4 linked regions of the Homo sapiens genome follow. The protein of the gene in region 1 interacts with the protein of each later gene in a biochemical or structural test. Each region holds a gene or a part of one and is shown in the gene's direction. Other genes may lie near its edges.

Region 1 (2,626 bases):
TAGTTATTCTTTGTTTTCCATACAATTAAAAGTAATTCTTTCTGTTCCAAGGAATGACATCTCGGTCTGGTACAGATGTCGATGCAGCAAACCTCAGGGAAACATTCAGAAACTTGAAATATGAAGTCAGGAATAAAAATGATCTTACACGTGAAGAAATTGTGGAATTGATGCGTGATGGTAAGAAGAAACAATTAGAATGAACTTCATTGTACAATTAATTTTATACTATGGTCTAGCAATAATTATATGTATAATAAAATATGAGAATTGTGGAATTATACTGTACATAACCCTAATCTTACATACTTTAGTAAGAAGTTTAAAAAAAGTTATTTATGCCAACTTCCTAAAATGGTTTGAGATGTGTTGCCGTGCCCCAGGTTAGGTTAAGATGACCTCTTAGTTTTAGTCTCAGTTTCTTCATCATGTTCCCATACAGTATATCTGAAGTTGTTGAATAAAGTCATGGATTTTTTTTCCTTTTATTTGCAAATGTCTTTACAGTTTCTAAAGAAGATCACAGCAAAAGGAGCAGTTTTGTTTGTGTGCTTCTGAGCCATGGTGAAGAAGGAATAATTTTTGGAACAAATGGACCTGTTGACCTGAAAAAAATAACAAACTTTTTCAGAGGGGATCGTTGTAGAAGTCTAACTGGAAAACCCAAACTTTTCATTATTCAGGTAATGTCTAACTGAGTGATTTGGTTATTGACGATTAAGCAGGGGTTACTATTCTCAACTGTAAATTATCCAAAGGATAATTTTTTTCCTGAAGCTAATGAACTATTGTTACTTTTCATTTATTTACCACTTAAAAGATATAGAGTAAATTTTAATTTTATACTTATATCAAAAAGACTCAGCATAATTAACATCCTTTTTTTTTTTTTTTTTTTTTTTTTTAGACAGAGTCTTGCTCTGTCGCCCAGGCTGGAGTACAGTGGCGCGATCTCCGCTCACTGCAAGCTCTGCCTCCTGGGTTCACGCCATTCTCCTGCCTCAGCCTCCTGAGTAGCTGGGACTACAGGCGCCTGCCACCAGGCCCAGCTAATTTTTAAATTTTTTTTTAATAGAGACAGGGTTTCACCATGTTAGCCAGGATGGTCTCGATCTCCTGACCTCAAGTCATCCGCCCGCCTTGGCCTCCCAAATTGCTGGGATTAAAGGCGTGAGCCACCGCGCCCGGCCAATTAACATCCATTTTTACATAGCATTTCAATTTTTTAGAACTAAGTTATGTGTTCACACACAAATTTTTATAAATAAATATTTATTTTCTAACACCCAGGCCTGCCGTGGTACAGAACTGGACTGTGGCATTGAGACAGACAGTGGTGTTGATGATGACATGGCGTGTCATAAAATACCAGTGGAGGCCGACTTCTTGTATGCATACTCCACAGCACCTGGTGAGAACGTTACACATAATGAATGTTACATGTGGATTTTAAATGAATTAACTGTGACTGATCATAGAATTATACAATGAAAAGTGTGTTTCAGAGACTGTCAAGATTTTGATATCCCTAAAGATATCAAAACTTGTCTATATTTTAGGGAACCTTCATCAAAGAGAAGTCTCAAAAAGTTGTCTTTAGCCAAAAGTTTGGCTAGAAAATATGCATATATAGCCAGGCACAGTGACTCACGCCTGTAATCCTAGCGCTTTGGGAGGCCGAGGCAGGTGGATCACTTGAGGTCAGGAGTTCAAAACCAGCCTGGCCAACCTCATCTCTACTAAAAATACAGAAAAATTAGCTGGGCATGGTGGCACACGCCTGTAATCCCAGCTACTGGGGAGGCTGAGGCAGGAGAATCGCTTGAACCTGGGAAGCAAAGGTTGCAGTGAGCCAAGATCGCACCACTGCACTTCAGCCTGGGCGACAGAGTGAGACTCCGTCTCAAAGGAAAAAAAGAAAAGAAAATATGCATATGTAGAGTAGACTAGCACGATGTCATTCATTGGACTTTATCAGGTAGATCTCCGCTACTAATATCAGGTAGAATATTACGTGGCAACAGAGGCCAAGTCAGAGCTTCCCCTGCATCTTAGAGAAGAAGAGAGGTACGTTTCTCAGGAGTTATTTGAAAGGTAGTAAATAAAAAAGATAAACATGACTAGTATACAAGAGGATAGATGTGGAGTGGGAGAAAAGAAGGTAAAAAACGATACATGAATGTGCCGTTAACCTCCACGTTTTTACTGTTCTGCTGCACACGTCATCATCTAAATAAACATTTGTGGATTATACCACCATTTACTCACACAGCTAAGGGTGTCGGAGAGTTTGGAAACTTTAGGTAAATGTATTCTTAAGCAGTGTTGCATTTTAAAATATGCTCAATATGGTTTATCTTATCCTCTAGGCATCTTTCCAAGCAAAGTACCTCTAAGTTAAAAGCAATGGGTCTAATAGTTAACCTAGAAAAAAAAGTATGATAAATATACTATTTTCCCTTTTTGGACCAATACTTGGTAGTGTGTTTATTATACTTTATTCAGATGCTCTGTAGACAAGTAGGACACTCAAAGCAATTTGTTTCTTGGCTAAGTCAGTATTAAAATAAGGTGAAATCTGATTGGAACACTGTGCTACTTACAATGATCCTTTTTATACATCTTT
Region 2 (3,500 bases), on another chromosome or scaffold:
GGAGTGGGGAAGGCATGGACCAGCTTCACCCTGAGTGACCCAGCAGTAAATGGTTGCTCCTTCCAGATAACATACAGGACCTTGGGTAAATTTGAATTTTGGGTAAACAACAAGCAGTTTTTTGGTATAGGTGTGTTCCATGCAACTTTTGCAGCTTCTCGAAAGACACACCTCTAGGTCCATCCATGCCCTCTTAGGAACATGCTGACACAGCTGCCATTCATGCCATTCATTGTGTATCTGAAATGTAGGTCCCACAGGGCGTCGTTGGCTGAATCTGGCTGCACTCACATCCTTCCTCCTGTACTTACCCCAGCCCAGGTGACCCCTGCTTTGTGACCATGATGTCCTGTACCCTGCCCTGCGCCCTGTGCTCCTGGCACTGTCTTTGCTGCCCTGGGTCTGTCACTCCGGTCCCCTTGGGCTCCATCCGTGGGCAGCTCAGCTGGTGCTGTTCCCTGTCCTTGGGCACTAGCTGGACGCTGGGCCCAGGCCAGCCCCCTGTGACCCTGCTTGTCTGCCACCTGCAGATGTGGCCGAGGAGGCGGGCTGCCCCCTGTCCTGTGCAGTCAGCAAGAGACGGCTGGAGTGTGAGGAGTGTGGCGGCCTGGGCTCCCCAACAGGCAGGTGTGAGTGGAGGCAAGGAGATGGCAAAGGTAAGCCCTGGAAACGCCCAAGGGAGGCCTGCAGGGGCGATGGCACCGGTGGAAACGGGGTCCTGGGGCCCTGCCAGCCTGGGGTGGCTCTCCCTGCTCCAGGTCTGCTTCTGGCACCTCATCCCCCATGTGGCTCTCGATGCCAGCATAGCGGGCAGCAGTGCAGGGCTTGGGAGAGGGCTTGTGAGTACAGTGAATGGTCCCCAGGCCGGATTCACTCTGGACTTGGGAAGGTCTGAACCAAAGTTGGGATGTGCTGGGGACAGAATGGCGTTTTTCTGGGAGGTCCTCGGCCAGGGGATGTGGTGTGGGCAGGGGACTCATTGTCTGCATCAGCCAGAGGCCAGCCTGGGTGTGCCCACCACCATGAGGGGCCCTCACCATGCAGCCCTGAGAGGGTCCCGGCCTCTTTGCTGTAAGGGCCACCTGTGTGAGGAACCCCCCATACCTCCTCTCCCATAAGCCATGGCTCCCCAGGATGCTTCCGCTGGCAAGGCTCTGTATATGGTGTTTCCCTACTCAGGCCTCCAGTTGCTCCTCCCTAGAGGGGCAGGATCTGCCTAGGAGGTGGTGGGGGCGTGTGGCGGGGCTCCCACATGGGTGACAGCCTGCTGTGTGTCCTGTGCAGGGATCACCAGGAACTTCTCCACCTGCTCTCCCAGCACCAAGACCTGCCCCGACGGCCACTGCGATGTTGTGGAGACCCAAGACATCAACATTTGCCCTCAGGACTGCCTCCGTAAGCAGGGTTTAATCAGGGCATGGGAACAGGTAGGAGATAGTAGGGGAAACCTGGATCCCACAGGCACTTCAGCCAGAGTTGCCAGGGCTGTCAGTTCTATGCATCAAGCTGAGCCTCCTGTGCATTTCAGCATCACCCTAGCCATGGGGAGGGAGCAGGCAGGGTCAGGGACAGGGGGAAGGCAGGGACCCACAGACTGTCCAGGCCCCTGCTGAGGTCCCAGAAGTCGGCACACACAGATTTCAGAAGCAGAGAATGGTCAGTAGGGACACTGACAGGGAAAGTGCGGCCCTGAGCCAGACGAGGGACACTGCAATGTGCGGGTCAGGCCACCAGGCTCCAGTTTTGGAGGCAGAGTCCTTTGTTCAGATGAAATGTTAGGAGGGGGCCTGGCTTCACCCATGGCTTCAGAAAGGCACTGTGACCAAGCCCTGCCCGGCTAAGCCAAGCTGCTGGGCCCCTGGCCTCACTGGGCCTATGCTTGCGACACCAGTTGGGGAGGGGGCTCCTTGGGACACTGCCCTGGAAATATGGGCGCCTGGGGTGGTCAGGCGCCCCAGGAGGCTGAGTGGGCTACGTCTGCCCTCAGGGGGCAGCATTGTTGGGGGACACGAGCCTGGGGAGCCCCGGGGGATTAAAGCTGGCTATGGCACCTGCAACTGCTTCCCTGAGGAGGAGAAGTGCTTCTGCGAGCCCGAAGACATCCAGGGTGAGTGGGTGGCGGCCGGGACCACCACCACCTCCCAGCCCCACAGAGGTCTCAACAGCACATCTGAGGTCCCAACAAGGGAGGAAATTGCTGGGAGGCGAGTGGGCCCCATGAAACTTCCCTCCCTCCCTCTGGGCCTCTGTTACTCCACCCAGGAGAGGGGCCAGGGCCCCTGTAAAGTGTCTTCTGGCCATAAGTTCTATGATGGACAGGCCAGAAAAGCAGTTCTTCCACCAAACAACTTGTCAGCCTGACAAGTCACTGTCCCTGTGACCATGCAGCTGGGACCCACCCAGGAACACATTTCAAGGTCAGCAGGTATGGTGGGTTGCACAGCCACACTGACTACACTCAGGGGTGCTGTTCTGCCTGAGCATAGGGACACGTTTCTGTCATTGAGTTTTCTGGTATTATATAGCCCTACGTCCCTAGCCACTTAGCATTTTCATAAAGAAAATGCCAAAGACATTTGGAACAGAGGAAAATTTTGACCTCCCCTGCCAGCCCTCCAGTGCCAGCTGGTGTAATGAGCACAGCCTCTGCTGTGTGACCTTGGCAGGCTGCTCAGCCTCTCTGAGCCTCTGTCTCCATCTGTAAGAGGGCAATAGTGGTCTAGGAGGGGGCAGTAAATGGCAGTACCCATGCTCGATGGGGTGTTCTCAGGCCTTCCCACACCTCCATGGCCACTTCCCAGCTGGCGCGGACACGGCAGGCTGGAGAGCCATGAGGCAGAGCATACGCAGCCTGTACCCAGTGGTGCCGAGCCTCTGGCGGTGCCAAGCCTCACACCACCCCCACCCACAGATCCACTGTGCGACGAGCTGTGCCGCACGGTGATCGCAGCCGCTGTCCTCTTCTCCTTCATCGTCTCGGTGCTGCTGTCTGCCTTCTGCATCCACTGCTACCACAAGTTTGCCCACAAGCCACCCATCTCCTCAGCTGAGATGACCTTCCGGAGGCCCGCCCAGGCCTTCCCGGTCAGCTACTCCTCTTCCGGTGCCCGCCGGCCCTCGCTGGACTCCATGGAGAACCAGGTCTCCGTGGATGCCTTCAAGATCCTGGTGAGGGTCCCTGCGGGGCAGGGAAGATCCCCTGCCCTCCCCAGCTGCCTTCCAGGGAGGGAGGCCAGCTGGGGAGACAGAGGCCATCCTGTGAGGGGCTGCCAACGCTGGGCAGACGAGGCCTGTGTTCTGCCCCCATTTCCATAGGGCGCTGTGTGGGGACAGTCTGTGGGGTGGGACTGTGATGAGGTGCCGTTCCCATCTAGGTGAGAGGCAGTGGTCAGGGTCACAGCATCGGGCAGGGGAGCAGCAGTGTGGATGGAGGGGCACTGAAGTCAGAAGGGGGTGCCTTTCTGGGGAGCCTGGCCTGCAGGTCTGCATGTGCTACTCAG
Region 3 (3,500 bases), on another chromosome or scaffold:
GGATTCACTTAATCTGGAGTATTGCTCACACAAGCTGGTTCATTCTTTTAATTCATAACATTGAGTGTTTCTCTTTGTTTTGTTTAAAGTTCCTTCTGATATTACTTTGTTTTAATGTTCAGATGCTAATCTGCATACTGCAGTCAATGAAGAGAAACACAGAGTTCCCACCTTCCCAGACAGAGTGGTAAGTCAACATTTTAAAAATGTTTTTCATGGTCAGGATATATTAAATAAACCAAGAGTTGCCAGATTCAAGACTAGAAAATGTGGAATTCATTTAGACTTCTCAGCAAAGAGAGAAAAACCATGAGCTCTAGATAATAGCTATGGGTGGTATTGAATAGCGGATTCAAATATAGAACCATTGTAATATCTCATATTTTTGCATTTCATTGTTGTGTCTTTTCCTAGCCAGTAAGCCCATAAATAGTCACCAAAAAAAAAAAAAGAAAAAATGGGTGCATGCGGGAGATGTCCTTAAGATGGCATCACACATAACAGGCAGCTGTTATTAGCTGTCATTCTTTCCTTACCATCAACATGGCCAAGACTGCTTTGTGGAAGTATCCTGGTGTTGAAATGAAACTCTATAGGACAAAAGCAGAAAACAACATAATTCTTTCCCTCCATTATCCCTTCAAAGCTATTCAGTGGGCTTTCTTCCCTGCTTCCAAATAAAGTCTTTGCCAAATTCCATAGTTTTGCAGTCATTCTCAAATGATAAAAATGTCCCCATTACTTGTAATCATAAGAACAGCCTCTGAATTGTTCCATCCAATGTTATTATCACATGACTGCAAACATCATTCCAAGTTAAACATCTGTCACCTAGCTTGGGCCTGCATCACCTGGCAGCATGCTTTTGGGGAGGGATTTTGGGGGGGCTGAGATTCATGGCCCTTTCAGAGTTAGTTCCAAGGAAGATGAGGTCTAATTAAAAAAAGACACACATAGCTGTTTCTATCATGATTTGGTGGTGGTGGTATCGGAGTGAGTTTTCCAGCACTGATTCTTTATCTCATGGGAGACTTTTAGGAATTTCCTACTGAAGGGCAGATCCATATGTAGTTTTATGACAGGGGAGAGATCTTGATCCTCAGTTCTTGGATTTTCAGCCCTCAATCTTTCAAGATGGCTGTCAGCCAACTTTTTCCCAAGAGTGGAGTTGGCCTATAAGAAAACAAACAAAACCTTGATTGCTCTGGTTAATTAAGCTGTATGTAGCTCTCTCTCGAAGTACAGGCTACTGCTGTCTTTTTGCTCTACTCTCTTGGGTTCATAGCCACAGCCTTCTGTTTTTAGGGTTCCCAGGCAGGTGTGAGCCTCCTCAAATGCCAGGATACACAAAAAATGGCTTCCCATTGGTTCTCTGGAAGTTCACCTGAAAGCAAGGGGACATCTCCGCCCATCTATTGGATCTATGGTGTCTTGGGTACTTATTTTCAGCTACACACATTCGCACACACTTCTCTCTTTCTAAGTAAAAGCCACATAATTTTCATGAATCAACATGAAAGACAAAAATAATCCATTATTGTAGTAGACTGAATAATGTCCCCCAAATTTCATATCCATGTAGAACCTCAGAATGTGACCTTATTGGAACTAGGATCTTTGCAGATGTAATTAGTTAAAGATCAAGATGAAATCACACGAAAGATGAGAGTGGGCCATAAATCCAATGACTAGTAAGATGAGAGGACACAGAGAGATACACAGAGGAGAAGGCCATGTGAAGACCTAGGAAGAGATTGGAGTTATGTTACCACAGGCCAAGGAACACCTGTTTCTTAGTCCATTTGTGCTCTACTAAGGAATACCTGAGGCTGGGTAATTGATAAAGAAAAGAGGTTTATTTAGCTCACCGTTCTGCAGGCTGTACAAGTAGCATAGCACTGGCATCGGCATCTGATGAGGGCCTTAGGCTGCTTCCACTCATGGCAGAAGGGAAGGGGAGCTAGTGTGTGCAGAAATTGTATGGTGAGAGAGAAGAAACAAGAGAGAGGGAAGGGAGATAGCAGGCTCTTTTCAACAACCAGCTCTCATGGGAAATCATAGAGTGAGAACTCATTCACTACCATGAGAATGGCACTAGGCCATTAATGAGGGATTCGCCCCTATGACCCAAATACCTCCCATTAAGCTCTACCTCCAACACTGGAGATCACACATCAACATAAAATTTGGAGGGGTCGAATATCCAAACCATAGCAACTTGGAACCACCAGAAGCTGGAAGAGGCAAGGAAAGATTTTATCCTAGAGGCTTCAGAATAAGTATGGCAATGCTGAAATGTTGATTTTGACTTCTAGCCTCTAGAACTGTGAAACAATAAATTTTTGTGGTTCTAATCCACCAAACTTGTAGCAATTTGTCATGGTAGCCCTAGGAAACAATTATAATCGTTAGGAGTTTTACTTTGTTATTAGCAACATTGCTGTTTGGGTTTGAAAATATGTTTCAGTCCTGAAGCTTGAAAAGTATGGCCCTCTAAAACACCTAGGAGAAACGCCCAGATTAGGCAAATCTATAGAAACAAAGGGTGATCAGTGGTTGCCTGGGACCAGAGTAGGGATGAGAATTGACTGCAAATAGGTATGAAGGATCTTATTGGAGTGATGGGAAGACTGGGCTGTGGTGATAGTTATACAAGTTGATAAATTTACAAAAGTCACTGAATTCTGCACTTTAAAAAGGATGAACTACCAATAAAGTTTGTTTTGACAAGTCTAAGAGCAGAAGATAATTAAGAGCCAGAAACCATTGCATCTAGTCTCCAGCAGGGAACTTTTTGGCCAATATATTGAAAATTATCAGCTAGGCAAATCAGTGGCTAAGGGTTCATAAGCCTGTTTTGATTATAAGCTTCCCAAATGAACCAGGGATCAGAGGGTATCATGTAAAGTATGTTTTTCTTTGTTTTGTTTTTTATCAGAGTATTCAGTAGAGGGCTTATTTTCTGAATGGAGGAAATAAAAATCAGCTCTCTAGTTGTTCTGTTCAAAGAGATTTCCTTAAATGATTTCCATTTAAGGAACTTCCTAGTGCATTTTTCTTTGGACATAACCCACTTCACAGCTCATAAATAACACTGTCCTGCATAATTAAAATTTCCAGAATGTCAAAGCCTTAACTCCAAGTAAATGAAATTTCTGAAAAACTAAAATATAGCATGAAAAAAATATTAAATGCATCTCTTTCTGTCACACACGCACACACAGACACACACACACATATTGTGAATTTTTAACTGAAATATAACATTAACATAGAAAAGCACACAAATCCTAAGTGTTCAGCTTGATGAATTTTCACAAACTGAACAATTCTGTATAATCCACCCTCAGATAAAGAAACACAACATCACAGAACCCCAGGGACACCCTGATGTTCCCTTTCAGTCACTACTACCCTCCAAAAGTAGTTGCTAACCTGATTTATAACATCATAGATTGTTTGCCTGATTTTGACTTTTATATGACTGGAATTATAAAGTG
Region 4 (3,500 bases), on another chromosome or scaffold:
CAGAGTGACAGGTGAAGGGGTCAGTCTGAGAGTTCACCAGGACCTGGAAACTAGGAGGTTGTGAGTTTGAGACCTCTAGGATCTGGGACTATGAGTTTGGGTGGATCTCACCTGGGAAGTAGGGACGTGGGAGATGAGTGTGTCTGAAACCCCTGGTGGTTGGGATTGGGAGGCTGGGTGAAACTGTCATCCTTGGGTGCTGACTACATCTGAGATCCATGGGGCTGACTGTGTCTGAGAATCCTGGAGCTCCCAAGCTAGAATCTGGGTGAGCATGAGACTTCTTATGGATGGGAGCTGAGTGAGTTTGAACCGCGTAGCAGCTAGGGCCAGGAGTCTAGTCGTGCCTGAGATCTTGTACGCTGGGATAGAGGGGTTGACTGTGTCTGAGGCCCCTGAGGGTAGTGACCTGGCGTCTGGGTGAACCTGAGATTGCTGTTGGCTGGATAGTCTGAGACCCACAGGTGCTGAGAACATGCTGCTGGGTGGTCAAACAGAGAGTCTGTACGGTTATATGCACCCCAGGAGAGGCTGAGGTGTAAAATGGGCTCCCCTGGTCTCCACAGAGCTTGGCAGAGCTGAGAGATCAGCGGCAGGGGGAGCGCCTGGAACATGCAGCAGCTTTGCGGGCCCTACAAGATCAGGTATATTGTACTGCGTGGGCTCAGGGAGCTGGGGTTCAGGATGGGGGCAGCCTGAGTGGGTACTACATAGTCAGGCAAGGTCCCAGGGATCCTGCTTCCCCCAGGCCTTCGTGTGTGTGTGTGTGTGTGTGTGTGTGTGTGTGTGTGTGTGTGTGTGTGTGTGTGTCCTTTCTTTCTTGGTCGTGGGTAGGTCCTGTCCCCCTGTTCTGGACCCACTCTCACCTGCTGTGGACGTGGGGCCAGGTATCCATCCAGAGTGCAGATGCACAGGAACAAGTGGAAGGGCTTTTGGCTGAGAACAATGCCTTGAGGACTAGCCTGGCTGCCCTGGAGCAGGTAAAGAACACCTGGGGGCCCTTGCTGATCCCTCTCCAGTTCCCCCATCTCCATCTGCTTCTGGTCCACATCAGGGTAGGGTGGTCTGGACCCCATGCTGTTCTCCTGTCTTTGTTTCTGTTGCTCCTTTCTGTTGGCGTCCAGCCCTCTTCTCTCTGGCCATCCATCCCTACTTTTTTTTTTTTTTAACTTTTAAAAATTTTATTGGGGAGGCTGAGGCAGGAGAATTGCTTGAACCAGGACCCAGGAGGCAGAGGTTTCAGTGAGCCGAGATCGCACCACTGTACTCCAGCCTGGGCGACAGAGCAATACTCTGTCTCAAAAAAAAAAAAAAAAAAAAAAGGGCGTGGTGGCTCATGCCTGTAATCCTAGCACTTTGGGAGGCCAAAGATGTGTGGATGGCCTGAGCTCAGTTCAAGACCAGCCTGGGCAACACGGTGAAACCCCATCTCTACTAAAATACAAAAAATTAGCTGGGTGTGGCGGTGTGTGCCTGTAATCCCAGCTACTCGGGAGGCTGAGACAGGAGAATCTCTTGAACCCAGGAGGCGGAGGTTGCAGTAAGCCGAGATCGTGCCATTGCACTCCAGCCTGGGCAACAGAGCGAGACTCCGTCTAAAAAAAAAAAAAAAAAAAAAGCCGGGCATGGTGGCTCAATTCTGTAATCCTAGCACTTTGGGAGGCCGAGGAGGGCGGATCACCTGAGGTCAGGAGTTCGAGACCAGCCTGACCAACATAGAGAAACCCCGTCTCTACTAAAAATACAAAATTAGCTGGGTGTGGTGGTGGGCACCTGTAATCCAAGCTACTCGGGAGGCTGAGGTGGGAGAATTGCTTGAGCCCAGGAGGTGGAGTGTGCGGTGAGCCGAGATCGTGCCATTGCACTCAAGCCTGGGCAACAAGAGTGAAACTCTGTCTCAAAAAAACAAAAAACAAAACGAAAAAAAACTTATTGGCCGGGCATGATGGCTCACACCTGTAATCCCAGCACTTTGGGAGGCAGAGGTGGGCGGATCACCTGACATCAGGAGTTTGAGACCAGCCTAGCCAACATGGCAAAACCTTGTCTCTACTAAAAATACAAAAATTAGGCCAGGCGCAGTGGCTCACGCCTATAATCCCAGCACTTTGGAAGGCTGAGACGGGCGGATCACCTGGGGTTCGGAGTTCGAGACCAGCCTGGCCAATATGGTGAAACCCCGTCTCTACTAAAAATACAAAAAAAAATAGCTGGGCATGGTGGCGCACACCTGTAATCCCAGCTACTCGGGAGGCTGAGGCAGGAGAATTGCTTGAACCTGGGAGGTGGAGGTTATAGTGAGCCGAGATTGTGCCACTGCACCCCAGCCTGGGTGACAGAGTGAGACTCCATCTCAAAAAAGAGAAAACAAAATTATTTTGTAGAGACAGGGTCTCACTATGTTACCCAGACTGGCTTAAACTTCTGGCCTCAAGCTATCTTCCCACCTCGGCCTTCCAAAGTGCTGGGATTATAGGTGTGAGCCACTGTGCTTGGCCTATCTCTGCTTTTTTTTTTTTTTGTAGACGGAGTTTCGGTCTTGTTGTCCAGGCTGGAGTGCTATGGCACGATCTCGGCTCACTGCAACCTCCGCCTCCCAGGTTCAAGCGATTCTCCTGCCTCAGCCCTCCCAAATAGCTGGGACTACAGCCGTGTGCCACCATGCCCAGCTAATTTTTGTATTTTTAGTAGAGACGGGGTTTCACCATCTTGGCCAGGCTGGTCTCGAACTCCTGACCTCATGATCCACCCGCCTCGGCCTCCCAGAGTGCTGGGATTACAGGCATGAGCCACCGCGCCCGGCTTCTGCTTTTCTTTGTTTCTAGTTTCTCTCTAGTAAAGTGCATGAAATGTACTAATCTTAAGTGTACACTCAGTGAATCCTCTCTTCGTCTCTCTCTTTTTTTTCTCTCTCTCTCCCCGCCACCATAGCCACCACCCAGATCAAAGTATAAAGCACTTTTAGTACCCCAGAAGGTCCCCTTTACCCCTTCAAAGTCAGTACTCCCCCAGAAGTAACCATTATTCTGATCTCTAGCAACATAAGATTCATTTCGCTTGTTCTTTAACTTCATATAAATGGAATCAGCTGCTCTTTGTCTCTGACTTCTTTCTGGCAGCACTATGTAAGTTTATCCACGTGGCAGCACAGATCTGTTCTCTTACTGTTGTGTGGTATTCCATTGTATGAACATACCACATTTACCCATTCTCTTCATTGTTTTTCTGTTTGAAATTTCCTCTCTCTTCCTGGTTCTCTTCCCACCTCCCTCCCTGTTTCCCTGGAACTAGGGGGCTCATACCCTGTCCCTGGCCCCTGGGGTCCCTTTCACTCTACTTCTCATCACCACTACTTTCTCCAGATCCAAACAGCAAAGACCCAAGAACTGAATATGCTCCGGGAACAGACCACTGGGCTGGCAGCTGAGTTGCAGCAGCAGCAGGCTGAGTACGAGGACCTTATGGGACAGAAAGATGACCTCAACTCCCAGCTCCAGGTA

The links. Proteins that work in one complex are often made in the same cells at the same time.
Region 2: of the proteins of CASP3 (region 1) and RET, one has a biochemical effect on the other in vitro, tested with the Homo sapiens proteins (one study listed by IntAct).
Region 3: of the proteins of CASP3 (region 1) and BMX, one has a biochemical effect on the other in vitro, tested with the Homo sapiens proteins (one study listed by BioGRID).
Region 4: of the proteins of CASP3 (region 1) and GRIPAP1, one has a biochemical effect on the other in vitro, tested with the Homo sapiens proteins (one study listed by BioGRID).

The regions. Positions count from the first base shown.
Region 1 is NC_000004.12:184,629,822-184,632,447, reverse strand, and holds part of CASP3 (caspase-3 isoform a preproprotein), read left to right. Parts: intron 1-51; coding exon 52-180; intron 181-507; coding exon 508-683; intron 684-1,290; coding exon 1,291-1,411; intron 1,412-2,626. UniProt on the Homo sapiens protein: Thiol protease that acts as a major effector caspase involved in the execution phase of apoptosis. Following cleavage and activation by initiator caspases (CASP8, CASP9 and/or CASP10), mediates execution of apoptosis by catalyzing cleavage of many proteins.
Region 2 is NC_000010.11:43,111,569-43,115,068, forward strand, and holds part of RET (proto-oncogene tyrosine-protein kinase receptor Ret isoform a precursor), read left to right. Parts: intron 1-530; coding exon 531-656; intron 657-1,284; coding exon 1,285-1,395; intron 1,396-1,987; coding exon 1,988-2,107; intron 2,108-2,911; coding exon 2,912-3,168; intron 3,169-3,500. UniProt on the Homo sapiens protein: Receptor tyrosine-protein kinase involved in numerous cellular mechanisms including cell proliferation, neuronal navigation, cell migration, and cell differentiation in response to glia cell line-derived growth family factors (GDNF, NRTN, ARTN, PSPN and GDF15).
Region 3 is NC_000023.11:15,517,807-15,521,306, forward strand, and holds part of BMX (cytoplasmic tyrosine-protein kinase BMX), read left to right. Parts: intron 1-122; coding exon 123-187; intron 188-390; exon of another isoform or gene 391-1,121; coding exon of another isoform or gene 1,122-1,173; intron 1,174-3,500. UniProt on the Homo sapiens protein: Non-receptor tyrosine kinase that plays central but diverse modulatory roles in various signaling processes involved in the regulation of actin reorganization, cell migration, cell proliferation and survival, cell adhesion, and apoptosis.
Region 4 is NC_000023.11:48,985,265-48,988,764, reverse strand, and holds part of GRIPAP1 (GRIP1-associated protein 1), read left to right. Parts: intron 1-566; coding exon 567-644; intron 645-887; coding exon 888-980; intron 981-3,362; coding exon 3,363-3,497; intron 3,498-3,500. UniProt on the Homo sapiens protein: Regulates the endosomal recycling back to the neuronal plasma membrane, possibly by connecting early and late recycling endosomal domains and promoting segregation of recycling endosomes from early endosomal membranes.